Homo sapiens: one gene and its partners. The protein of the gene in region 2 purifies or fractionates together with the protein of the main gene of each other region. This does not show direct contact. Each region holds a gene or a part of one and is shown on either strand. Other genes may lie near its edges. The genes, in order: RFC2, RPA3, RFC1, ACTA2, GEMIN5, SMARCAL1 and POLA1.

What was found.
Region 1: the proteins of RPA3 (region 2) and RFC2 purify together in Homo sapiens (affinity purification with mass spectrometry; 2 studies listed by BioGRID and IntAct, with this or other methods). This does not show direct contact.
Region 3: the proteins of RPA3 (region 2) and RFC1 purify together in Homo sapiens (affinity purification with mass spectrometry; 3 studies listed by BioGRID and IntAct, with this or other methods). This does not show direct contact.
Region 4: the proteins of RPA3 (region 2) and ACTA2 purify together in Homo sapiens (affinity purification with mass spectrometry, with the first as the bait; one large-scale study listed by BioGRID). This does not show direct contact.
Region 5: the proteins of RPA3 (region 2) and GEMIN5 purify together in Homo sapiens (affinity purification with mass spectrometry; 2 studies listed by BioGRID, with this or other methods). This does not show direct contact.
Region 6: the proteins of RPA3 (region 2) and SMARCAL1 purify together in Homo sapiens (affinity purification with mass spectrometry; 3 studies listed by BioGRID and IntAct, with this or other methods). This does not show direct contact.
Region 7: the proteins of RPA3 (region 2) and POLA1 purify together in Homo sapiens (affinity purification with mass spectrometry; 2 studies listed by BioGRID, with this or other methods). This does not show direct contact.

What each region holds. Positions count from the first base shown.
Region 1 is NC_000007.14:74,240,900-74,244,399, forward strand, and holds part of RFC2 (replication factor C subunit 2), read right to left. Parts: intron 2,348-3,500; coding exon 2,247-2,347; intron 1-2,246.
Region 2 is NC_000007.14:7,712,108-7,715,607, forward strand, and holds part of RPA3 (replication protein A 14 kDa subunit), read right to left. Parts: intron 3,120-3,500; 5' UTR 3,068-3,119; intron 1-3,067. UniProt on the Homo sapiens protein: As part of the heterotrimeric replication protein A complex (RPA/RP-A), binds and stabilizes single-stranded DNA intermediates that form during DNA replication or upon DNA stress.
Region 3 is NC_000004.12:39,286,956-39,290,159, forward strand, and holds the end of RFC1 (replication factor C subunit 1), read right to left. Parts: intron 3,085-3,204; coding exon 2,893-3,084; intron 1,890-2,892; coding exon 1,806-1,889; 3' UTR 501-1,805; downstream 1-500. UniProt on the Homo sapiens protein: Subunit of the replication factor C (RFC) complex which acts during elongation of primed DNA templates by DNA polymerases delta and epsilon, and is necessary for ATP-dependent loading of proliferating cell nuclear antigen (PCNA) onto primed DNA.
Region 4 is NC_000010.11:88,942,774-88,946,273, forward strand, and holds part of ACTA2 (actin, aortic smooth muscle), read right to left. Parts: intron 1,135-3,500; coding exon 1,024-1,134; intron 1-1,023. UniProt on the Homo sapiens protein: Actins are highly conserved proteins that are involved in various types of cell motility and are ubiquitously expressed in all eukaryotic cells.
Region 5 is NC_000005.10:154,896,712-154,900,211, forward strand, and holds part of GEMIN5 (gem-associated protein 5), read right to left. Parts: intron 2,600-3,500; coding exon 2,480-2,599; intron 1,940-2,479; coding exon 1,729-1,939; intron 1-1,728. UniProt on the Homo sapiens protein: The SMN complex catalyzes the assembly of small nuclear ribonucleoproteins (snRNPs), the building blocks of the spliceosome, and thereby plays an important role in the splicing of cellular pre-mRNAs.
Region 6 is NC_000002.12:216,474,984-216,478,483, reverse strand, and holds part of SMARCAL1 (SWI/SNF-related matrix-associated actin-dependent regulator of chromatin subfamily A-like protein 1), read right to left. Parts: intron 3,216-3,500; coding exon 3,033-3,215; intron 1,376-3,032; coding exon 1,275-1,375; intron 282-1,274; coding exon 185-281; intron 1-184. UniProt on the Homo sapiens protein: ATP-dependent annealing helicase that binds selectively to fork DNA relative to ssDNA or dsDNA and catalyzes the rewinding of the stably unwound DNA. Rewinds single-stranded DNA bubbles that are stably bound by replication protein A (RPA).
Region 7 is NC_000023.11:24,990,918-24,994,201, reverse strand, and holds part of POLA1 (DNA polymerase alpha catalytic subunit), read right to left. Parts: intron 1-3,284. UniProt on the Homo sapiens protein: Catalytic subunit of the DNA polymerase alpha complex (also known as the alpha DNA polymerase-primase complex) which plays an essential role in the initiation of DNA synthesis.

The DNA of each region.
Region 1 (3,500 bases), about 67 Mb from region 2:
ACAGGTGTGAGCCACCATGCCTGGCCAGTTTCTTTCTTTCTTTTTTTTACTGAGACCAAGTCTCTCTGTTGCCCAGGCTGGAGTGCAGTGGTGTGATCTAGGCTCACTGCAACCTCCACCTCCCAGGTTCAAGTGATTCTCCTGTCTCAGCCTCCTGAGTAGCTGGGATTACAGGCGCACGCTATCACACCCGGCTAATTTTTGTATTTTTAGTAGAAATGGGGTTTCACCATGTTGGCCAGGTTGGTCTCGAACTCCAGACCTTAGGGGATCCACCTGCCTCGGCCTCCCAAAGTGCTGGGATTACAGGCATGAGCCACTGTGCCCTGCCAAATCAAGACCTAGGAATGCATTTTTCTCCATTTCATTGCTGGCATCTGCAAAGTGGAGAATACTTCTCATTAAACTCCACGAGCTCTCCACTAGCATGGTGCCTGGCGGCTACTAAGAACCAGAGTTAAGCGTTCGGTGAATGGGTTAATGAATCAATGCACAAATCAGTGCGATTTTGGGAAGGGAAAAGAATGCAAAGGATTCTTGACACTGCTGAGAGCCCCACCAGGGCTGGTAGCCATGACTTTGTGGGTGCCATATTTGGTAATGCGCTCGTCGGCAACAGCGGCCTGGGTGGCAAGGGGGTTGTCAGATGGATGAGCTCATATGGTTGGGGTTCAGCAGGGCAGAAGTGAGGCAAAGAAAGCGGCTGAGAGAGCAATGAAAAATGAGGAAAGAGGACAGCTGGGCTGTGCAGGCAGCCTGTGTCAGAAAGAGAAGGATGGGCCAGCCGTGGTGGCTCACGCCTATAATCCCAGCACTTTGCGAGGCCGAGGTGGGCAGACCACTTGAGGCCAGGCGTTCTAGACCAGCCTGGGCAACATGGTGAAACCTCGTCTCTAAGAAAAATACAAAAATTAGCCTGGCATGGTGGCACATGCCTGTAATCCCAGCTACTGAGGAGGCTGAGGTAGGAAAATCACTTGAATCCAGGCAGCGGAGATAGCAGTGAGCTGAAATCGCAACACTGCACTCCAGCCTGGGCGACAGAGCGAGACTCTCTCTACAAAAAAAAGAAAGAGAAGGATGTGAAACCAGCAGGAAGTTGACAGACTAGAGCACTCTTGGGACCTGGGGCGGGACAAACCCATGCAGAAGCAGACAGGCTGCAGGGAGGGAGGTGGAAGGGCAAACAGTAAGGTTAGAGAAAAGACGGACTGCAGGATTTGAGAGAGGAGCTTCCCGGAGGCAACAAATTCCAATGTACAGATACTGCCTATACCAAGTACTCAGAGCACATGAATAGCACAAGAAGGTATCTGGAGAGCGACTGTGATCGTGACACCGTGCAGGGGACATCAACAACATCCTTGTGCCTCCAAGAGTGCAAGAGGGTGATAGAACTGGGGCTCCAATCCCAGCTGCTCTTGCACTTGCTCTGACTTTGGGGAAACTACTCAACCTCTCCAAGCTCGTTTTCTTTCTCTTTTTTCCTTAGATCCTAAACATCAGGATAAGCTCCAGTTTTCTCATCTCTAAACTGAAGCGAATAATACCTCCTCATAGGATTATGTAAGATTAAATTTAAAAGTTGATTACAATGGGAAACATGTGCATAATATATACAATTTCTCCTTGTCAATTAAAAAAATATAAATTTAAAAACTTGATTATATAGTGCTTGGCCCATGCTACACAATAAAAAAATCCCTACTCTTCCAGCGCTAAAGAGCCAAGGCGAGGCCAGGTGCAGTGGCTCACATCTGTAATTCCAGCACTTTGGGAGGCCGAGGCAGGCGATCACGAGGTCAGACGTTTGAGACCAGCCTGGCCAACATGGTGAAACCCCATCTCTTAAAAAAAAAAAAAAAAAAAAAAAATTAGCTGGGTGTGGTTGTGCGAGCCTGTAATCCCAGCTACGCAGGAGGCTGAAGCACAAGAATTGCTTGAACCTTGGAGGTGGAGGTTGCAGTGATCTGAGATCGTGCCATTGCACTCCAGCCTAGGCGACAGAGTGAGACTTTGTCTCAAAAAAAAAAAAAAAATCCAGGTGTGGTGGCACAGGCCTGTAGTCTCAGCTACTGGGAGGCTGAGGCAGGAAGACCACTTGAGCACAGGAGTTTGAGGCTGCAGTGAGCTGTGATGGCACCACTGCACTCCAGCCTGAGCGAAGAGGGAGACCACATCTATAAAAAAGAAAAAAGCCCAGTTGAGCACCACGTGGCCCCCAGCCACCGAAAGCTCCCACTCACCGATGATCTTATCCGAAGCATTACAAGCAAGGGCGAAGCGAGTGGTTTTAGAGTAGATTTCCATGGTTCTCCTCAAGGCTTGCTGGGCTCCGTCGGTCATGCTGAGAAGAAAAACACAAGTTTGCAAGTGGGACCCAGAGACCATGTGACACAAATCGTTCCCTATACAAAAACCCAGGACATAAGACACATCCAATGTCCTAAATGAGGGTCTCATTGGAAGTACGCAGGCCATCCCTCTAATGCTAACACCTGCAGGCCGCTCTCTCAAAGACTGTGCAAACAGCATTTAGTACCTACAGCATCAGAACAACCCTCAAGTGAAACTCACGAAAACCACGATCTACAAGGGCTGCCATCACACTTGTGGGAATTGGTTCTCTCCAGTCCTTCATGACACAAATTCAGGAGAACAATCATGACACCAGCTGCCAACTTTTCTTTCTTCCTTTTTTATTCTTTTTTTTTTCTTAAAGAGACAGGTTCTTGCTGTCACCCAGGCTGCAGTGCAATGGTGGAATCATAGCTCACTGCAGCCTCGAACTCCTGGGCTCAAGCAATCCTCCCATCTCAAAAGGCTGATGCGGGAGGACCGCTTGAGACCAGGAGTTCGAGACCAGCCTGGGCAACAAAGTAAGACCTCTATTTCTACAAAAAATTTTAAAAAATACAAAAAAGCCTGTTTACCAGATTATCATAATGTAGAGCAATGCCTACAACATTAAAAGGAAAAACCAGGATACAAAAATTATATATATTATGATCTCAACTGTGTAAACATTGATAGTATATAAAAAGAGAAGAAAAAAAGCAAGTTATTAATGGCCAGGCATAGTGGCTCATGCCTGTAATCCCAGCACATTGGGAGGCCGAGGCAGGTGGCTCTCTTGAGGTCAGGAGTTCAAGACCAGCCTGGCCAACACAGCAAAACGTCAACTCTACTAAAAATACAAAAAAAAAAAAAAAAAAAAAATTGTCTGGGCGTGGTGGCGCACGTCTGTAGTCCCAGCTACTCGTGAGGCTGAGGCAGGAGAATCACTTGAATCCAGGAGGCAGAGGTTGCAGTGAGCCAAGATCATGCCACTGCACTCCAGCCTGGGCAACAGAGTGAGGCTCCACCTCAAAAAAATAAATAAATAAAAAGGCAGCAAACTATTAATATATTCTAAATTTTCTTCAAAGAACATGAATTACTGCCACATTAAAAAAAAAAAATTTTTTTTTTGAAACAGAGTCTTGCTCTGTTGCCCAGGC
Region 2 (3,500 bases):
CATAAAGCTCATTATATTACCATCCTTTAAAACCATCTCAACCTTCCTTTGTTCTCTGCTTTTCTATATAATGAAGCATCAGTTGATCTTATGCCAAATAAATAAAAAATGAATAACAGATGGATAATCACTCAAACCTACCCACTCTGATGTGATTTTTGTTGAAATTTTATTGAACATATAGATTAATTTAGGGGAGAATTGCTATATTTACAATATTTAGTCTTCTTCAGAAATATATTTCTGTCCATTTGCTTAGGTTTCCTTAATACATTTTTGTAAAATTGCCATGCATTTTTCATAAAAATCACATTTCTGCTTTTGTCAGATTTATTCTTAGAGTGCTTTTTTGTTTTATTATTATAGTAAATATTTTTAAAGTTGTATTTTCTGTTTGTTGCCAGCATAGAAACATGTAGCTGATACTTGTAGCAACCATCTTGATAAAATATTTACTTCCCATAATTCATCTTTAGATTCTTTTGAATTTTCTAAGTACGTAATTATAACCTCTGTGAATAGTGAGTTTTGTTTCATTCAAATCCTTGTGGTTTCATTTTATCTTTTGGTCTTACTGCATGGTCTAGGACCTCTAGTATGTTGAAGAGAAGTGTCAAAGAAAACATCTTTTCCCCACTTTTGATTGTAAAAAGAATGCTTATAATGTTTGCAATTGTGAACTACTACATACAATACATTTTGTTTTTTTGGGTTGCTCCTGGTTGGCTAAAGGCTTATTGTAGAAACATAATAGGCATAGAGTGTTGTTAGAATTGGTATAAGATTTGATTTTAATAGAATTCACCTGTAAAAATTATCTTGGCCTCGTGTTTCTTTAGTGGGTAGCTTTTATGTACCGAATGAATTTGTTGATAATTGCAGACTAGCCTATTGTGTCAATTTGGTAAGATATTTTTCTAGGTGATTGCTCATTCAAAAAATATTCTAGGGCCGCGCGCGGTGGCTCACACCTATAATCCCAGCACATTGGGAGGCTAAGGCAGGCAGATCACAAGGTCAGGAGATTGAGACCAGCCTGACCAACATGGTGAAACCCTGTTTCTACTAAAAATACAAAAAAAAAAAATTAGCTGGGCATGGTGGCGTGCACCTGTAGTCCCAGCTACTCAGGAGGCTGAGGCAGGAGAATCACTTGAACCCAGGAGGCGGAGGTTGTGGTGAGCTGAGATTGCGCCACTGCACTCCAGCCTGGGTGACAGAGTGAGACTCCATCTCAAAACAAAACAAAACAAAAACAAACAAACAAACAAATCTAAGTTTATAGACAGAGTTTTTTTTTTTTTTAAATGATATCTTCTTACCATTTTTTAATCTCTGGGATTTTCATTATGTTCTGCTCCTCCCCCCCATGGCAATATTGTTTATTTATTGCTTTACTATTTATTTTCTTAGTGTTTTCAAAAGACCAGTTTTAGGATGTATTGTTCCTCTTTTGCATTTTATTTTCTGTTTCATCATTTCTTGCTCTTACCTTAATTATTTCCTTTTTCATTTTCTTTGGAGTTTATTTTGTTAGTTTCATTTTGACTTTTTAAGTTGGTTGTTTGTCCTTGGATCATCATTTTTAAGCTTTTAAAAATTCTAATATGTTCATTAATAATGCCCTGTATTTCCCTTTAAATGCTATTGAGCAGCTTCCAAATTTTAATTTGTATTATTTCCATTCGTTTGTCATTTTGCACATTTTTCTCTTTTCAAAAAATTAAAAAAATTTTTTCTAGAGGCAGGGTCTCACTCTGTCACCCAGGCTGGAGTGCAGTGGTGTGACCACAGACAGCTCACTGCAGCCTCGACCTCCTAGTCTCAAGTGATCTTCCTGCCTTGGCCTCCTGAGTAGCTGGGACTACAGGCATGTGCCACCACACCTGCCCCACACGTTTTTCATCGTCAATACTTCTTTGTTGAGTTATTTTTAAATGTTTTAAGATTTCCAAAAATTGAGTTTTTTTGTGTGTTATCTTTTTGATGAAGATTTTTAATTTAATGTCCTGTGGTCAGAGAGGGTGGTACAAATGATAGAAATTCCTGAAATGTGTTGAGACTTGATTCATGGCCTTTTCTCAAAGAAAAGCATATCAGTCTTAACTGACCTCCACTTATATGACTTTGCATATTGACCAGCATTTCCAACTTTTCTATAAATCCTTGGATGTTGACAGCATCTAGTTTATTCTCTGATGAGCAGACTTTCTTTGGCTGCTCCAGCAGAGTGCTGCTGAAGTGTCAAGCTGTTTGCTCCTAAATGTATGTACTTGTTTATTATAATTGCATGATTTAATTAAAATATGAATTAAGAGGTTGTACTTAAACATGAATAAAGAGGGAGTACTTATAGCTACGAAACTTTGTTAAATGCTTTAGAAATAATCTATATAGTTTAATTGCTAAAATAAAAAAGGAGCTGTCAATTTAGGTGTGGGTGAGATGACTTAGGATCTAGGAATCAGTGGTAGATTGATTTGTAAATATCTTTAAATTCTCATTTGCTTTAAAACAGTTGGAGGTTGTGTACAATGTATTATATGTTGGACTTACATAAGAAAGACTTAGAACTCCATCAGGTGTCCCTAACTGCAAATAAAGGCCTCAGCTGAAAACCTTCCTGGGGGAAGGTTAAAGCAAGTAACAGGTTGGAAGCTGGGAGAAAGTCAGGATTTAGGGTGTTGGGCACTTGTGTAGAGTAATTTTTTTATTTCCTCATGAACTGGTTGTTCAAAAATTTTTCTTTTTTTTTTTTTTTTTTTAGTTGATAGTAACACTTGCAGACCTGTTGTACCATGTGGTTGAACTAAGCAGAACAGGGGCACTAGAATTAAACAACAACAACAACAACAACAAAAAACTACAGAGGAATTACAGTTGCCATAGGCAGCAATGAAACTAGAACTAACCAACTGCAGTTTTTTGTTGTAGGCAAATCCACAAATCTTAGAACTTAAAAAAAATACTTTTTTTTAGTGTTTTACGAGATGAACTCTGAATTATAGAATATCTCACCATTAATATGCACCTTCAGCATAGAAACAGTTAAAGAAAATAAACTTACCTGAAACTATTGTATTCCCTGTGCATTGTCTTCACATCCTTTTTCTGAGTACCTGAGACAAAGTGAACTACAAGTAGGATAAGAACTGAAAAGTTTTCACCAGATTTATGAATACAGTTTCATCAATGATCTTGGTGAATAGTAGTAGCAGAAGAGTTGACCATAGACCTTATAGCTAGCTGTTAGAATAGCTAATTTAATGAATTTTTTCCCAAATCTGAAACTCAAAGCTACTGATAACCAAAGCTAGTTCCCTGATAAGTAACTTAGGGAAGTGCACTCTTATTTCAATAATTAATGCTTCCATGAAATTATATAAACATTCATGCATTCCGACAATATCTGAATATTTCTGTGTGCTAGGTGCTGTGCTGGGTGTTGGGTATGCCATTATGAACAATACAAAGAAGAGCTCTGTTTTCATTCAAATGAG
Region 3 (3,204 bases), on a different chromosome or scaffold from region 2:
GCCACATCATCGGTGGCTCCAATGAAGACTCAACCCCAATACAGACCATTCAGATTCACATCCAAACTGCTGCAGAACCACCAACTGCCTCCTACCATGAATCTCACTCATTCACCTCATGGTCACGAGGGCTTCAAAGAGGAATCAGACCTATGCCATCCTCATAAAGGGCATATTTACAATTTCTAATTCTAAAAGAAATGCTATTAATTTTACACACATATTATCCCAATCTTGGGTTTAAAACATTTAAAATTACAAACAAAATCATAATGAACAAGTGAAGGACACTATGCCGCATCCTGGCTGCATGGAGATTCAAGTCTCTCTCCTGGGGGCTGCAGAAGACCTAGGGAGACGTGACTTGCATATCCAAAAGGCATAGAAATGGAAGAACATGAATAGGAAAGCCAGCCTCACCCTACTGGTGAGAAAACCTTTCCTGAAGCATAAGAATTTCAAGATGGACTTTAACAAAGACAGGGTCGTGACTCAGCAGGCAAGGGCTTAGGCAATGTTTTATTTCCATAATGAATTAATCTCCATAAATGACATTTTTCACACTGGTAAATACAGTTTAAATGTCTCAAGAACTTTGTCTCATCACCCAAACAAGACTACCAGTTCCTTAAAGCAGGGAATACGATCCTTATTTTACATTCATTTTAGTATATACCTCACAGAGGTAGCACAGACCTCTGAGCATTTACCAACAAGATTAAAAAATAGCTAGACATCTAAATTCCAGGCTAGGTCCATAGCCTCACGGCCACTCAACACATACAGTTATAGGAATAACCCAAACTTCCAACAGGGTTTGTGGAAGCCATCACAGGACAGGACTAGATCTCTCAGGGGCAAAGTGAACAAAAGCCAGTGTTCATTTTGTCCCCCACCATAGTGAAATTAAGAGCCTGACCCAGCCTGGTTCCTACTGGTCTGAACCTGATGGGTTGAGACTCCAGAAGGATAAGAATGTCTGAGAATCTTCTGCAGCCCCCCACGCTGCAAAGCCCCATAACAGACCACTGCATGAAATCCTATTCACAGCAGAGACGTGGTCAACACACACAGAGGGAGTGAGGCTGGGAATCCGAGTTCTGACTCCTCGACTGCCAATGTTATGTTTCACACAACAGGTTAGTAAGGAATACAGTGAGCTTTTTTAATCCAATCATTTGCAAATTAATAAGGAAGTAATATACCAACATAATATTTTGCTGTACAAGATGACAATCTTAAAAAGAATTTGTACACATATCATGTGGAACATTTTTATTCCTAATTTATACTTTGAAAGATATCTGACAATGTACAAAGAATACCCAGTTCTAGGTGGTGACTGTTTTGTATAATCATTTATTTACAAAATTTCACCACATAATAGGAACTGCCTTTAAAAAAAATCAGCATTGGTCCTATAAAGGCCATTAGGATAAATTCTTAAGCCTACAAAAGACGCCTTAGTACTACTGCTCCCAGGCTCATTATTGTTAACTAAAATCTGACTCCAAAGCCCAGGTGTAGTTTCTAGTTCCAATTCTACAGTCATTCAGAAGCACGTCTAACTAGATTGACAGAGGACAGTGGAGGACCCAAGCAGTCCTATCAACCTCTATAAGAGGTGTACATAAGCCTACTGCTCATACCCTTCTAGCCATACCACCCTTTATTTATAATGGGACACCAGGTCATCCCATTATGCTAAAACATGGTTGCTCTGGGAAAAAACAAGGCTTTCTCTAGACCAGCTGGACTGGTCAGGAGGGAGAGTAAAAAGTGGCTGTCGCTAGTGAAAAATGGTTTCATTTCTTCGAACTTTTTCCTTTTCCTTTTCTGGGCTCCTTATCTTTTTCTGGTTTTGAAGGCTTTGAAGATTTTGTCTTTTTCTGTTAGGGGGAAGATAACAAAATAGTTAATAGCTGTGTTTATGAGTAAATGAAATAAGTTCATCTCTATAACAAATCTAATCTTTACCTGCAACTTAATTAAAAAAGAAGAGAGGCTGCAAACATCGAGATCTTGAACTACTGCAACCCATGAAGCGCTTACAGCAACAACTGCGCCACTTACAGCCTTTAAAAGCTGGCAGTAAAAACTTTTAGTTTAGAATTTAGAACTAGGATCCGTTCCCCATGTAAGACAGTTTCTTGGATTTAGAACAGAGGTATACTTAGGAAAGACAAAATAAGCAAGAGGTAATTGACAAATAGGGTAATGTTTAGATGAAGAATTTCCTCTTCTTTCAGTTTCAGATTAGAGGTGTAAACAGTCATTTTGTGAAAGCAGAAGAGAGGGAGAGAGGAAGACCACCTGTTAGGGTCGACATGGGAGCCACAGTGAAGAAGGCCACTATTCCTACTCCTGCATACAGAAAACAGAAATGAAGGGCAAGAAGCACCCACACCCAGCGAAGGACAGAGGAGGATCAGATGAGGTTCCTTGGCTCAGCCAGCTGTACACAGCAGGCTGATACCACAATTGGTTTTCATATTTCCCATCAAAAGACAAGAATGTTTTGCTCTAAGAAACTTCTACAAAGCAGTTTAGTGGCTATAGCAAAACATAAGCAACAGAAGAAACTGTTTTGTTACAAACATTTTTCTTGAAAGCATACACCAATGGCTAGATAAATAAAAATGGTACTTTTTCTAACAGAACATATGGCCGTCAATATCATGGCCTGTTTTCTTGCTGTTTGGCTCTTCGACTACCATAAGAAACTTTATAAAAATGAAATCTCTACCTTCTCCACCCTCAACCATGATGAACAAAAAAACTTAAGAAGTATTTTCAAGTTATTCTGCTATGTGCTGAAAAGGCCCTATTATTCACCAGGCAAGGAAAGATCATCTATTTTGAGGTTCTCCTGTCTGTGGCTTAAAATACTACCTTGATCATGGCATCAGTTTCTATAGCATCTTGGTCTTTCTCATCAGATTGAGAGTCATCTTCATTTAATTCTTCATTGTATTCCGAATCCAGGGATGGGCTTGTGCTGTGTCTAGATGCCTTTATAGCTTGAAGTGAGTATGGAGTAAGGTGGGCTTCCTTATTGTAAGCTCTTGTGAAGGCTGCTTTCACCTATATGAAAGGAGTAGATGGAGTTTTTAAAAATCTAAGTCCCAAACAATTCTTTTAAACTCTGTAAGCCTAAAGAGACCCTGGGAGCCCCCTGCAACTGTTTGCAAAGTATTTATGTAT
Region 4 (3,500 bases), on a different chromosome or scaffold from region 2:
AGGAACAATAATTCATCAGAAGCAACATCTCTTGCGACGTGCAGTGATTCCCAGGCCCACAGATGTTCCCCTGTAGAGAACAAGTGCTAGTGGGTTGGTGCAAGCACCAGGAGCTCTTCTGAGGAAAAGGCCTTGCAGTTATTTACATTTATGATTCTTCAATGCTGGAAGATCGTGGATCAATCCCAGGCTTTGCCAGTTCTAGCTGTGTGACCCTGGGAGAATTACTTAATGTATCTGAGCCTCAATTTCTTCATTTATGTAGTCAATATAATCATAGTTCCTGCTTCACATTGCTAGAACTTAAAGAGACAATGAATGTAAAATGCTGAGCCCAGTACTTGACCATAACAAGTATAGAATTGACACTAGACGTTGTTATTTAATAGCTCTTCCAAACTAGAAAACTCAGAGCTCTGTCTGGTGGGCTGGATGGGATTCTATTGTGAGGTCTTTAGCTTCAAACAAGTAATAATAATGACAATAGTAAGTACTATATTTTGGATGTTTATTAGGAACCATGATACACATCTGTCATTTCACCTCATTAATGTTCACATCAATCCTTGGAAAAATGATAGTATTAATATTACTCCCAACTTATAGACAAGGAAACTGAGGCTCTGAGAAATTAACGGAGTTCTTTAAGGTCACATAACTGATAAGTGGCAGATCCAGTTTTCAAACCTAGATATGTCTGACTCTGGAACCCAAATTCCTATTGTATGTGATGCTGCATTTTGAAGTGACTTCTCCTTAGACATTATAACTTAAACGTGGCCCCTTCTCAGTGAAATCTTTTAAATTTCCTATTGCTTTTGGAGGCAAAGGGCTGGTCCCTGCAGGAAGGATGCAAGTACTTTCAAGCTGTTCCTGTCCTTTGGGATCCCTGAGTTCACTGAAGGCTGTTAGTCTGTTGGTGGACTCCTAGCTCCGGCCTTCTCTCTGCTGTGCTGCATAGCCTCCTTCTAACAGAAGTTTCCCCAGACCCCACAGTGTTGTGTGCTGGGGTAGCATACTTACTTGAGTCATTTTCTCCCGGTTGGCCTTGGGGTTCAGGGGTGCCTCCGTGAGCAGGGTGGGATGCTCTTCAGGGGCAACACGAAGCTCATTGTAGAAAGAGTGGTGCCAGATCTAGTGAGTTGGGGGACAGAGGAGAAACACAATGATGTGCTGTCATGAGGTCCTGCATTTCCCAAAAAGGGACCAGAAGCTACTTGAAACCAAGACCAAAGGAAATGCTACAAGTACTCATGCATGTGTCCATGGTTTTATAGATGCAGAGACTGAAGCTCAAAGTGTGTAAGTACCTTCCCAAAGGATTCACATCTACTAAGTGACTGAGCAGAATCCCTAACCCAGATCTGTGAGGCAGGATGGTATGGCAGTTAAGGGCACAACCCTTGATCAAACCTTGGGTTCAAAGCCCAGCTCGGACACTTCTTAGTTGTGTGAGCTTAGGCAAGTTTTTAACCCTTCTCAGCTTCAGTCTCATGATTGGTAATAGGGAGATGAAAATAATTAGTGTGTACCTCATCGGGTCTTTGTGTAAATAAATAAGGTAACCCTCGAGTTATTGTCCAGCCCAGTGTCTGGTCCAGAATCAATGTTATTATTATTCAACTCTATTTTCTTTGTTCTCTCTTCCCATTTTAATGTTCATGGGAAAATGATTTAATTTTGTAAATAAAAAGACAAATGAATGTATATATGAATAAATGACGCTTACTTGAAAACCTAATTGACACTTTTAATGCTTCTAGAGAAGTTGCCCTTTGCAGTGTACATGAAGAAGAGAACAGGGCTCTCTGACTCTTGCCTCCATCACCCTCTTTGCTCTCGAGGGATGAGAAAAGCTTCCTCTATCAGCACACTCTGGATCTTCCACTCACAGTCAGACATTTGGCCTTCAGGTGTTTCCAAAAGGCCCACGCCTGTGTATAGTGTGTCTATGTGAAGGTACTTTGGACATAACTACATTTATTTATGGTTGAGCACTTTCTTTAATTCCTAGATGCCGAAAAGAACAAACCATTGCAAAAAGGACTAAATTAATTAATCTTTAAAAGCACGAAAATTCTCCACCAGAGCCAGGAATATGAGATTCACTCAAAATCAAAACAGAGCAAAACAAGAACTGCTGGTGAAAGCTTACAAATTAGCAAAACCAAGATTAGCTTTAAAGACTATCTTATTCCACTTTCTTTTGTTTTGGATTTGTGGTTTATAGAAGGGAAATGAAACTTCTGAAAGTTTTGTTTCTTTAGTGGAGTGAAAGCAGCAGACTGCTCAAAAAATCCTGCCAGTCACAGCAAGCAACCTTTCTCCTCTCTCTCTCTTCGTCCCCACCAGAAGATACTTTGAATTTAAATTTTAGAAATAAGGAAAGTTTTTTCTTCCAATAGTCTCTGTCTAGGACGATACATTCTAAGATGTTGTCAGCTCCATGGAGAAATTCTAAAAGAATATTTTCCTATTGATATTGATATCTTTTTCTCTGTGCAAACTGCAATCTTACCAAATCTAGAATCCTCAAGCAAACCTACTGATATGAAATTTTTGTAGAAAGATAGAGCTTGGAGCATTACTGCTGATAAATTCTAACAACATTATGTATTTTTCTTTTAAGTGATAAATTGTGTGCGTAGTAGTAGTAGTGAGCCGATAGATAAATAAAAGGCCAGATATCGTGATTCTGATATATCTTGCTGCATTTAAAATTTTTTATGTCACTTTCTCATTATTTCTTCTGTTTTTTTCTCTGATCACTGGTGTCTGTAATGTTTAATGACCAAACATCAAAATCTTAGAATTTAGCTCTTCTTCTCATTAGCTCTTTTATTAAGTGTCTGGGAGATAAGGCCTCATGTAATGCAACACAGATAAATAATTTTTAAAATATTTATCATATAGCTTTTTTCAGTGGCTCTTGTGCTTCAGTGTGTGGAGAGGCATTCAGAAATGTACCAAACCTGCAATGTTACACTCCTGTTTACTATAGTGAAAACAAAAACATTTTTAATTTAGATGTTTAGAGTGAGTTAATGAAAACCTTTCAAGAATGGGCTGTTTAAGACTACTCCCAGCATTTCAAGCCCCTTTAGCTATATTGCACTGAGAGGGATAACCATGCAGCCCCTGATGAAAATGAAAGGAGGGTTTTCATTCTCTGAGCTGCTGCTCATGCACTGCTTGTCCTAGGAGGGCAACAGAGTTGACGTGAGCAACAGATGATTAATTCCCTGCAGTGGCAAAGGGCTACTCTTCTCATCTACAGAACTATCATCCTTTAATTAGTTAATAAAACCTAATAGGCAAGGACATTTTTTTCCTTTTCTTTAGAGACAGAGTCTTGCTCTGTTGCCCAGGCTGGAGTGCAACAGCTGATGGTATGATCAGCTCACTGCAGCTTCGAACTCCTGGGCTCGAATGATGCTACCACCTCAGCCTCCTGAGTAGCTGGGACTACAGTTGCATGCCACCACACACTGTTAATTAAA
Region 5 (3,500 bases), on a different chromosome or scaffold from region 2:
ACTTTGGACTCAGGAATAAAAGCATAATGGGCCAAAGGTGCTGGAATAGACAAGCTTTGCAGATCCAAGAGCTGGGACAGGCATTAGGAGCCATGTCCAAATAGGTTTAATAGAGGAAGCTGGCTGGGAGAGAAGAAAACAGAAGCACAGAGAAGGCCTAGAAAATCTACTTTCACTAGATTTTTAGTTGCCATGAGATTCCTTGTGTACTCCTATAACAATATCTTCTCAGTTAAGCTTGCAAGAGTCTCTGTTGCACAAAACCAAAATAGCCCTTATCAGAATATTTAGCATATGCTTATTAGGTTTTTTTGCTTTGTTAAGGATGCTGTTTAAGAGAAAAATAAAATGCTAAACAGTCATTCTGGAAACTTTTTTTGATGGTGGATAAATTAAAATCTTTCTAGACTTGGTCATTTTATAAATAATGCCCAGTGGCATTATCTTTTAGGGTGTCCTATTTTCACCTCCATTTTTATTCTGCTGTTCCTAGAAAGCTACCTCCCCATGTACCACGTTCCTTGGGCTCTAAATATTCAGCTAAAAACCATCTGTAGGCCCTGTACTCTGTTAGAGAATGAAGAACTTAAAAAACCTCTTGTTAGTATCTCACAAAGTTATCTAAAGTGAATCAAATGTTTACATGTTTCAGAAACTAGGTAAGTGTGCCAATGCTTTAATCTGTTTTGATGTGTCAAAAAGGCAGTGGTATGTTACTGATTTTTAATCAGATGGGAACAAAAAAATTTAAGAAATAAAGAGATTTCCATTTTCCCACACTTTTCTCTTTTTTTTCTGAAGAGTCTCACTCTGTCACGTAGGCTGCAGTGCAGTGACACAATCTTGGTTCATTGCAACCTCTGCCTCCTGGGTTCAAGCAATTCTCCTGCCTTAGCCTCTCAAGTAGCCAAATTACAGATGTGTGCCACCATGCCTGGCTAATTTTTTTATTTTTAGTAGAGACAAGATTTCGCCATGTTGGCCAGGCTGGTCTTGAACTCCTAATCTCAAGCGATCTGCTGCATCTGGCCCAGTTTTTTTTCCATAGCTTACAGTTAAGAGGGGCATTTACAGGTAGAGTTCCATGATTTCTGTTAGAGGCCAACCATTCTCTCTTCAAGGAAGACAGTGCTGATAACATCAATGAAGAAACCCTAGACTGCCAACCCAAGGCCTGGGCTGACTAAGGTGTTTTTTTTTGTGTTTTTTTTTTTTTTTTTGAGACAGAGTCCCACTATGTTGCCCAGGCTGGATCTTGGCTCGCTGCAACCTCCGCCTTCCGGGTTCAAGTGATTCTCCTGCCTCAGCCTCCCAAGTAAGCTAGGATTACAGAAGCGTGCCACCACGCTCGGCTAATTTTTGTATTTTTAGTTGAAACGGGGTTTCACCATGTTGTCCAGGCTTGTCTCAAACTCCTGACCTCAAGTGATCTGCCTGCCTCGGCCTCCCAAAGTGCTGGGATTACAGGCATGAGCCACTGTGCCCGGCTCACAGGTGTTTTGTACAAACAGATAAGCAATGGGAATTACTGTGAATGACCATATTATCTCTTACTCTGAATACGGCAACTAACAAGTCATAGTACTTCAGTGGGATAGCATGGCCAGGGCTTGCTGGGCCTGCCAAATTGGCACAGCTTGTGCAACTGGGTTATTAACTTGGATTTGACTAGAAAAGGATTTGGGACACTTCCCTCTTGTATACTAGGAGATGAAATAACAGACTGACCTGTAGACTTTCATGCAGCTGCAGGGCTTCCTGGGCTCCCACCCAGTTGTTGGCCAGAAGCAGCTCTTGGGCACATCTGAGAGCCAGGGAAGCAGACAACTCATCCTCTCCTACGATGGCAGCCAACTCTGCAGCCGTTCTAAGTGATGCCGCATCCCCCTTTTTGGCCAAAACTTTGGCTGCATCATAAGCACAAGTGGCCCCTAAATAGCTATAATATGAATAAAAATGTGAAGAAAATGTCACAAACAGATTTTTATTCCCATTCCTAGAGGATGGAATCATTTCTTTCTATCTACTTTGCTGCATGTGCCTTCCTGTGGTCCCAGGTATGTCACTGCCCCGGTTGTTCCTGTGAAGGCTGAGGCCAACACAACTCAGCAGAGTGTATGAGAAACAATATCATATAGGTTAAGGACATAAGGAAAATGAGAGGGAATGACTCCTCTGTTGGGTTCAATCCAGCATGGGTTGAGGTTCCTTTATTTGATGTTATAAGAGACCATTAGAAAAATGCATAATTTCTTAATCTGCTGCTGAGGTTTTTCTTGAATAGTTATAGTGATTTATATAAATAAATCAGGAAGTAGTTCCTGATGAGTCTTATGAAACTAAGTTGAATATACATATCTTTTAAATAATTCCTTGCTGCTTTACCTCCACCTCTAAACTTATTACTTGTATTCTTGTCCTCCCCTTCCTGGCAGAAGCTCTCCTATGTTGGAAGCATCCCTCCACTCCTCAGGCTTACCATTTGGCAGCTACAGCATAGTGGCCATCTCTTTCTAGGACGGTTCCCCAGCTGAGGTACAAGTCCTTCAGGACTGGGTCCTCCGGGCGCAGCCGGGCCTTGGCAATCGCAATAGCTTCCCTAAAGGCAAGAACAGACCCTTTAGCCAATCTGAAAAGGCTCCTCTGTGTATGGTCCTAGGAGGGGCTGTAAGACAGGACAAACTGTCCCTTTTGTGTTGTCTTATTGTTCCAACTTCCTTTAAAAACTGCACTTGCATTATATAGACAAATTAGAAACATATGCTGCATTCGTTTCTTCACTTAGATCAGCAGTTCTTAAATTGTGGTCTGTGGATTCCTAGGGGGTCCTCAAGAACCTTTCAGAGGGTTCATGAGGTTAAAACTATTTTCGTAACAATGCTAAGAGTCAGTTATGTGCTTTTTTATTAAAAAAAAAAAAATGTGTTGACATTTGCACTGATTGTGCCAAAGCAGTGATTGGGAAACCTGGCATCTAAGAAGGAAGGCGGTGGCTCTTACAGTGGAAAAAAAGGAAGAATGCCCTTAATGAAGCAGTAAAAATTACAAATTTTACTAAATCCGTCAAGTCCAAAACACTTTAATATTCTGTGTGACAAATGGGAAGAACATTTTGTGTTCTCTGCTGCATTCCAAAGTAGAATGGTTGTCTCTAGGTAACACCTGTATGAACAAATTACAAGCTAAACTGGCTGCTTTTTCATAGAACCTTCTTTCTTCTAAAAAAAAAAAAAATGACTAACATAAATAACAGTTATTCAGTGTTGGGTATTTGGCAGATGTTTTTCTCAAAAATGAACAAAGTAGGCCTATCACTTCATTAAAAACAACCAACAGTATTTGTTACTAATGATAAAATGCGAGTTTTCTAGCAAAAATTAGAATTTTAGAAAACTTGTACCTACCACTTGTGTGCCTGAGTTTCCCATAAGTTAGAATTTTCTGATGAGACTGATGGTGATAGTAAGGAATGTGGTATTTTTGGGTATTTTATAATAAGA
Region 6 (3,500 bases), on a different chromosome or scaffold from region 2:
ATTTCCCCATAAAGCGATGCATGCATGGTTCAACTGAGAATGACTGCAGGCCATTGTTTTCAGCTCTAGGCTGGGGGAGGTCCCTAGGAGTGATTCACATCCTCCTACTCAGGACCCAAAGACTTGGCAGACAGCTTAATGCCTCCCTCTGCTCCAGGGGTGAAGAGCCATGTGCTGGCATTACCTTGTAGAGGTAATCAGTGGATTCTGTCATTTCTGAAAAATTGGTCTCAGAAAGCCCGGCTTCTGCCAGAACTTTAATCTTCTCTTGAATCAGGGGCCTGTTGGGGAGAAATGAGCTGCAGTGAATACAACCTGCACAGAACCACCAGACTAATGAAAATGAGGCCACCCTCCTTGTTCTTATGGGACAACGGCTTGTTTACGGTTTCACATCTCTGCATCTCTCAAGGTGCAAACACCCATCTTGAAAAATTTGCCCCCTCTCATTTGTAAAAACTCCAATTTAGGGCTAAGAATATCATCAGGTTCAATATTCTTTCTAATGGAAGATGTGTAGGAAATAAATGCTGCCTCATTTCAACACAATTTTGAATCTGGTGGTATTATGAGCTGCCCAATTAACAAATCCACTAAAAAGGGGGAAGTAGGAGTGACCCACACACATTGCAAAGGGAAGACTCCTTAGTCATAAGGCTGGAAACAGAGACAAGCAGTGGAAACAAATGAGATAATCAAGAAATTTTGTATCAGGAAGGGGGAGATAAGGGGAAGAAGCTTTTTGAGATTTTTCACTTAGGTAACAGACAGAAAACCCTAGGGTTGAAAATCTTACTCCAGCTCTGCTAACGAAGTACACTACACAGTCCAGGGTAAGCCACTTTCTCCCTGTGGTCCAGCAGCAGCAATGTAAGATGTGCCCACCAGATAAATGCACATCATAAAAGGTAAAAGACTGTCACCCTGTCCTAACAAATGCCTTCACAGCTGGGAACAGGGTGTTTTACAAACTAAATTCCATCTATATTTTGTCATAATCAGCACTTCTCCCTGCCTCAGACCAGCAGCAAAAGGAGCCACAACCCCTTATTGCTATAAGATTCAGCATGCACCCTGCAAGCCACCAGTGAACGCTAGTGAGGGAGGCCAAATATGGTCATGATGAAAGCAGGAGGGCATCACTAGTCAATTTTCTATAGATCCTTAAAGACCTTACTTAGCAAAAGCAGAAGCACTTTGGGAGCAAAGTAAACATATCATCAGTTTCCACCCTTGCTCGACTCCAACTGCCAGGCCACCCAACCAAGCCATACCAAAGGTAGTCATCAGCTGTGCCCTTTGCCACGAGGTAGTGAATGCCCACGGAGCTGGTCTGTCCAATGCGGTGCACGCGGTCCTCAGCCTGGATCAGCACCTGTGTGTCCAGGAATTGAGACAGGCAGGTAAAGGCCTGAAGCAGTTCCATCCACCATAGCAGGTATGGTTCCTCTCCACCCCATTTCCAGTCCCACCACAACCCTCCCTCCTCAAAGCACTTCACTGTCTCAGACCTAGAAATAACCTGCACTTTACCATCTCAGACCTACAAATGACCTGCCACTTTAACAAAAGAGAGAACCCAAAACAGCCCTGGCTGGGGAACTGGAATCTGAAGCAGAAGATCTGCAGGTGGCTGTTCAGTGCTGGGCACTGAGCTAGGTGCTGCAAATGAAGAGGCACAGGCTCTGCCATCAGGCTGCATGGGGAGGGGCTGGTGATGGAGGCCTGCACACTTCCATTTCTTCACTGTATGAAATAAAAAGTTATCTTCTAAATAAATAAAAACATCACACACAAGGGAGAGGCTATCCATGATTTGGGCATAGGGTGGTGGTTTAATATAGTGGTAAGCCTTATAATAAATACTTAAGGGCTGGATGTGGTGGCTCACGCCTGTAATCCCAGCACTTTGGGAGGCTGAGGCAGGCAGATTGCTTGAGCCCAGGAGTTCCAGAACAGCTTGAGCAACATGGTGAAACCCCATCTCTACAAAAAATACAAAAATTAGGCATGGAGGCGTGCACCTGTAGTCCCCTGCTACTCAGGAGGCTGAGGTGGGAGGATCACCTGAGCTCGGGAAATCAAGGCTGCAGTGAGCCAGTAAGTCCCTGCAGTCCAGCCTGGGTGACAGAGCAAGACCCTGTCTCAAAAAAGCAAAAGAAAAAAAAAACCACCTAACATCATGAGCATTATTTCTTGTATAAAATGGCTACACCCTCAAGGTCTACCCATTATTAATGTAGTCTCTTATGTGTAGCCAATAAAAACCACAATATTATTAAATATTATATAAATATTAAAGGGGATATAACTTTTCTGGAGATTACCAGAAAAATTTAAGAGTTCAAACAAATGTCTTATCTCTGTCCTCAGTTGGTCAGGTGAGGCCAGTGGTGGTGTCCAGGAAACCCTCACTGCTGTCACTCTGTGTGAGGTCCATTGTTAAAGCAGCTCACAATGATGGCTACTAAAGGGGGCACAGGCTGGAACGTGAGGCCTGGGCTGCAACCTGGTGCCACCAAGTGCCCTCTTCAGTTATGGCAGTGCAGTCCTGCCTCACCCCTTGAGCTCTCGGTGCCCTAACTTCCTCCTATGAGACATGAAGTCAAGATTCCTTCTAGCCCTGGAAGACTTCAACCTTCCCGTTGATAAAATGGAGTCGATAATCCTACAGGTTGCTGTGAAAATCTAGAAAACAGCCAATCGCCTGGCGTGGTGGCTCACACCTGTAATCCTAGCTACTCGGGAGGCTGAGGCAGGGGAATCGCTTGAACCCAGGAGGCGGAGGTTGCAGTGAGCCAAGATCATGCCACTGCACTCCAGCCTGGGTGATAAGAGACTCTGTCTCAAAAAAAGAAAAAAAGAGACTAGTCAATCAACATAGAAGTGCTTAAAGGAAGTGAAAACTGACTTGTGGGAAGTATAATGAATGGATAAAAGGGAAACCACACTTTCCCCGACCGACACTCACTGCTTCCTGCCCACAGCCATGAGCATGCCTGGGGAGTATCTGAGTCTTCTGCGTCTCTTACCCCTGGGTTCCAAAACAGCTCAGCAAACACCACCAGGTCAGCCGAGGAGAAGGTGAGGCCCATATTGGCAGCGGTGATGGACAGCACGGCCACAGCATGCCTCTCCGACAGTTGGAACTGCTGGCACAGGTCCTCCCGCTCAGCTGATGAGGTGGAGCCATCGATGCGGATGTGCTGCACGTGCTGCAGGAACAAGGGGCAGAAGCAAGGTGGGCAACAGCCCCGGGGGCTTCTCAGCAAACCACACCCAGCCACAGCTCCAGCACAGAACCAGGTTCCAGCTCAGCAGAGGCCCCTGCCTTCAGAGCTTTTCTTTTCAAATTGACATTGGTATTGAGATGACTGCTTATACTCAGGTGCCATTGTAAGAAATAATAGAGATCCCTCTTAGGCCTTTGCCCAGTTTCCTGCAGTGGTAACATTCTATAAAAACTATAGTATAATACCACAGCCAGGATGCTGACTTCT
Region 7 (3,284 bases), on a different chromosome or scaffold from region 2:
AAGACAATTTGAAAGTTCTAATGATCTGAGTCTGGGAATAAACAACAATGGCCCCAACCAGTGTCGGCTGCCTCCCGGCAGGCCAGAGCCACAGGCCAGCAACCCCGTGCATGTGAATGACACAAATGCATCTGATGACTGGGGAGAGCACATTTAAAGAGCTGCGGTAATACGGAGCAGGGGAGGAAAAGAGAGGACATAGCTCCTGATGTGTTTACCTCCTCTGCTGATGGGATATTGACTTTTCCCACCAGGTTGGTTAGAAAGGGGACTATTTACGCTGCCACACAGCAGAGTTAGAATGACAACCAGCGTCACTCGGTGCTCTTCCTCCTAAAAGACAACTGTGACCGCCAGCATATCCCATAGCCAGTCAATACGGCCAAGGCACCATTCCACGCCAGTTAGAGATGCAGATAAAAGCTCCCACTTGCTTCCCCAAAGAGAATTTAATCAATAACATATGGAAGGTCTTCTAGGAAACAGAACTGGACTAGCTGTCACAGGCTGCGTCAGGGACAGGGGCTGGTGGGGGGAAGGAGTCACCCCTTCCTGGTTTTTCTCTTCCCCCTTTAGGCACCTGGGCCACCCACGTTAGGCCTCACATTAAACTGTTACCCTGTTTCTGTCAATACTATATCCACCACTTTAGAACTCAAGGGAAAATACAGGTGTTAACTGGTGGAGGCCAGTTAATGTGGCCAGTAAAACCCTGATTCCTTTTCCTGCTTTGATTTTGAGAGTCAGCCTATCAGTAACGACGCCATCACCTCAGGTGCTGCAGGTCAGGTGCCCAATAACAACTGTTAAAAGATTCCAACATGCCATTAGGCAAGAGCCAGAGAAGATCCGCAGCCATCCCATCCCTGTCCACAGAGATGCCACTGGCCCTGGTAACTGCTGTCTCCGCCACCAGCACCACAAAGCCAACCTTTGTCGAGATCGGGGAGGAAATGCTCTTCCTACACACAAGTGCGTCACTGAAATATACTCTAATGGCTTGAAGTATCACCCAGAAATCACTCATCTTAATACATCAGCAAAGCTAATCTCCTTTTTAAACTTTTCTTGAGAATAACATTCGAGGAACGTGTATATAAAGCTTATTTACTCTGATCCTTTCTACATGCTCTGATTCCCTGTGGTTATATGTTAATTACCAAAAATATTCTGTCCCTAACCCCTATGAAAACGATGGAAAAAAAGGGTAGCCTAGATACTAATTATTCACAAAATATTTTATCAGACTACAAAATGAACTGCTCATTTAAAAGTTGATTTCTATTGATTAGAATCTAAAACCTCAAAATAATGAAAGTTACATTCTTTTCTATATGGGATGAACTAGACCATCATCTGTAGGTTGACCTTTCTTAAATATTTTATATAAAAGTCAACTGATCAAATAAAATGCTAGCTCTATTAAAATAATGGAGTATTCTCCCATCTAAGGAAACTAACTCTACTTCACATATTTTAGTTCCATGTCAGTAAACCAAAAATCTCTTTTCAACTTTACTCTTTATAAAACCCTTTTTGGACTTAAAGAAACACACTGAACTAGAAACCACGAGGCAAAGACATTTTAACATCGCCTACTGGTTATTTTCTTTTAATTAAGGCAGGCTTAGGCACACAGGCAGCAGCCGTCTCTGTTCTGAATGTCTGTTTCATTTATTTCTGTACAAAGGTATCAAACAACAGTCAGTTATAATTGATTCTGTCAGGTGTTATACAGTCAGTCATAATTGTCTCTGTGTAGAGGTGTGTCAATTTACTATATCTGAATTAAATATTCTGTCAATTATGAAATCAGGTAATAATTTCAGTCAGTTTTTTAATTGCATGGCTTCCCACCATACAGTTCTCAGTTCTCCCACCTTTTCCAATCCATAGCCTCCCTCCCTCAATGCAACGTGAGCTTTGCAGTAAGGGGTGGAATGCAGGAAGCTTTAGAAAAATTTGAAAGAAAACTGCACCCCTCTACGCTCTCTACACGTAGAGCCATCCGACCTACAGAGAGCTGCTGGAGCCTCTGGCCTGCCTTTTTCCTGAATATCGATCCATATAACTGAGCTTCCGGCTATGCACAGTACCTGAAAGATTTCAAGTGACATCCATATTTTAAACTCAAAGACATTTAGGGCCCCAAATCAAATGGCAAGTACATAAACATTTCTCAAAGTAAGAAATGAAAAGAAATAATCTTTGAGTCAATTCTTATTTAGAAAAAAAAAATTCACAAGGCACAGTGCCAGGCACACACAGTGATCAATGTGTCTATCAATTAGCCAATGCCTAGAGGACCATTCTCACCCATTAAATCACATCTTAGATGCTAAAATATTTCTGAAGGCTTGAAGAGTCTGTTAGTCCACTATCCAGTTCCATTCCTACTTAGAAATAATTATCTTCAGTTTTCTTTCTTTTTTCTTCTTTTATGTTGATACCAAAATACAGCCTTCAAGAAGAATAAAATATCCATGGTTTAGCTCAAGTGCTCTACTAGGCTGTAGGCTGATCTGACAAGTATTTAGAAGTGTGATTATAATTCTCTCCACCATTGGTCTGGTTCATGTTCAATAAACACAGGCTTGCTGCAGCCTGGTGGTGGTGAACAGTGACCCTTCACACTCAAAGCAAATGGAGGTGCCATGGGGCCCAACTACCAGGAAGGGTTGTTCAGTGGAAGTTTGGGGAAGAGCAGAGGCCGATGCGAGAAGGGAGGAGACAGAATAAAGCAATGTAAAGAATGCCACTTCTATAGACAAGAATAGAAGGTAAGAGTCGTGCCCCTTACCATGTTTCAGTGGCAAAAGAGTCACCTTGAAAGAGATAAAAAATTTCCTTTCAACTGGATGAAGTGATTCTCTCAGGGTTGGGTTTTGGGTGTTTGCATTTGTCATGTCGGAAGAAAATTGCCCATGCAGCCCCCTTGCTGAGGTTATAAAAAGTACTGTCAACCATACTGGACAGAATTTTTTTTTGGGTGGGTGTGGGGGGGGAGGTTGTAGAGAAGGAAAAAAAAAAAAGAAACACATTGTGCAGGATCATTAAGCACTGTTGTATAAATAAAGTTAGAAGATCAAACGAAAGAGGGGACTCGGGTTAAATGCTGGAAGACAAGCTTAAATAAAGTTCTAAGAAAAAAGCAAGGCACGCTGTAATTCCAAGAACCTATTACTTCAGACAATTTACTTCAAAAAATAAAATCAGAATGGTAAATGATTACCAAAAAGCAATCATGTCATCATCACTGAGAGATGGAATAAAATAATTTTTTG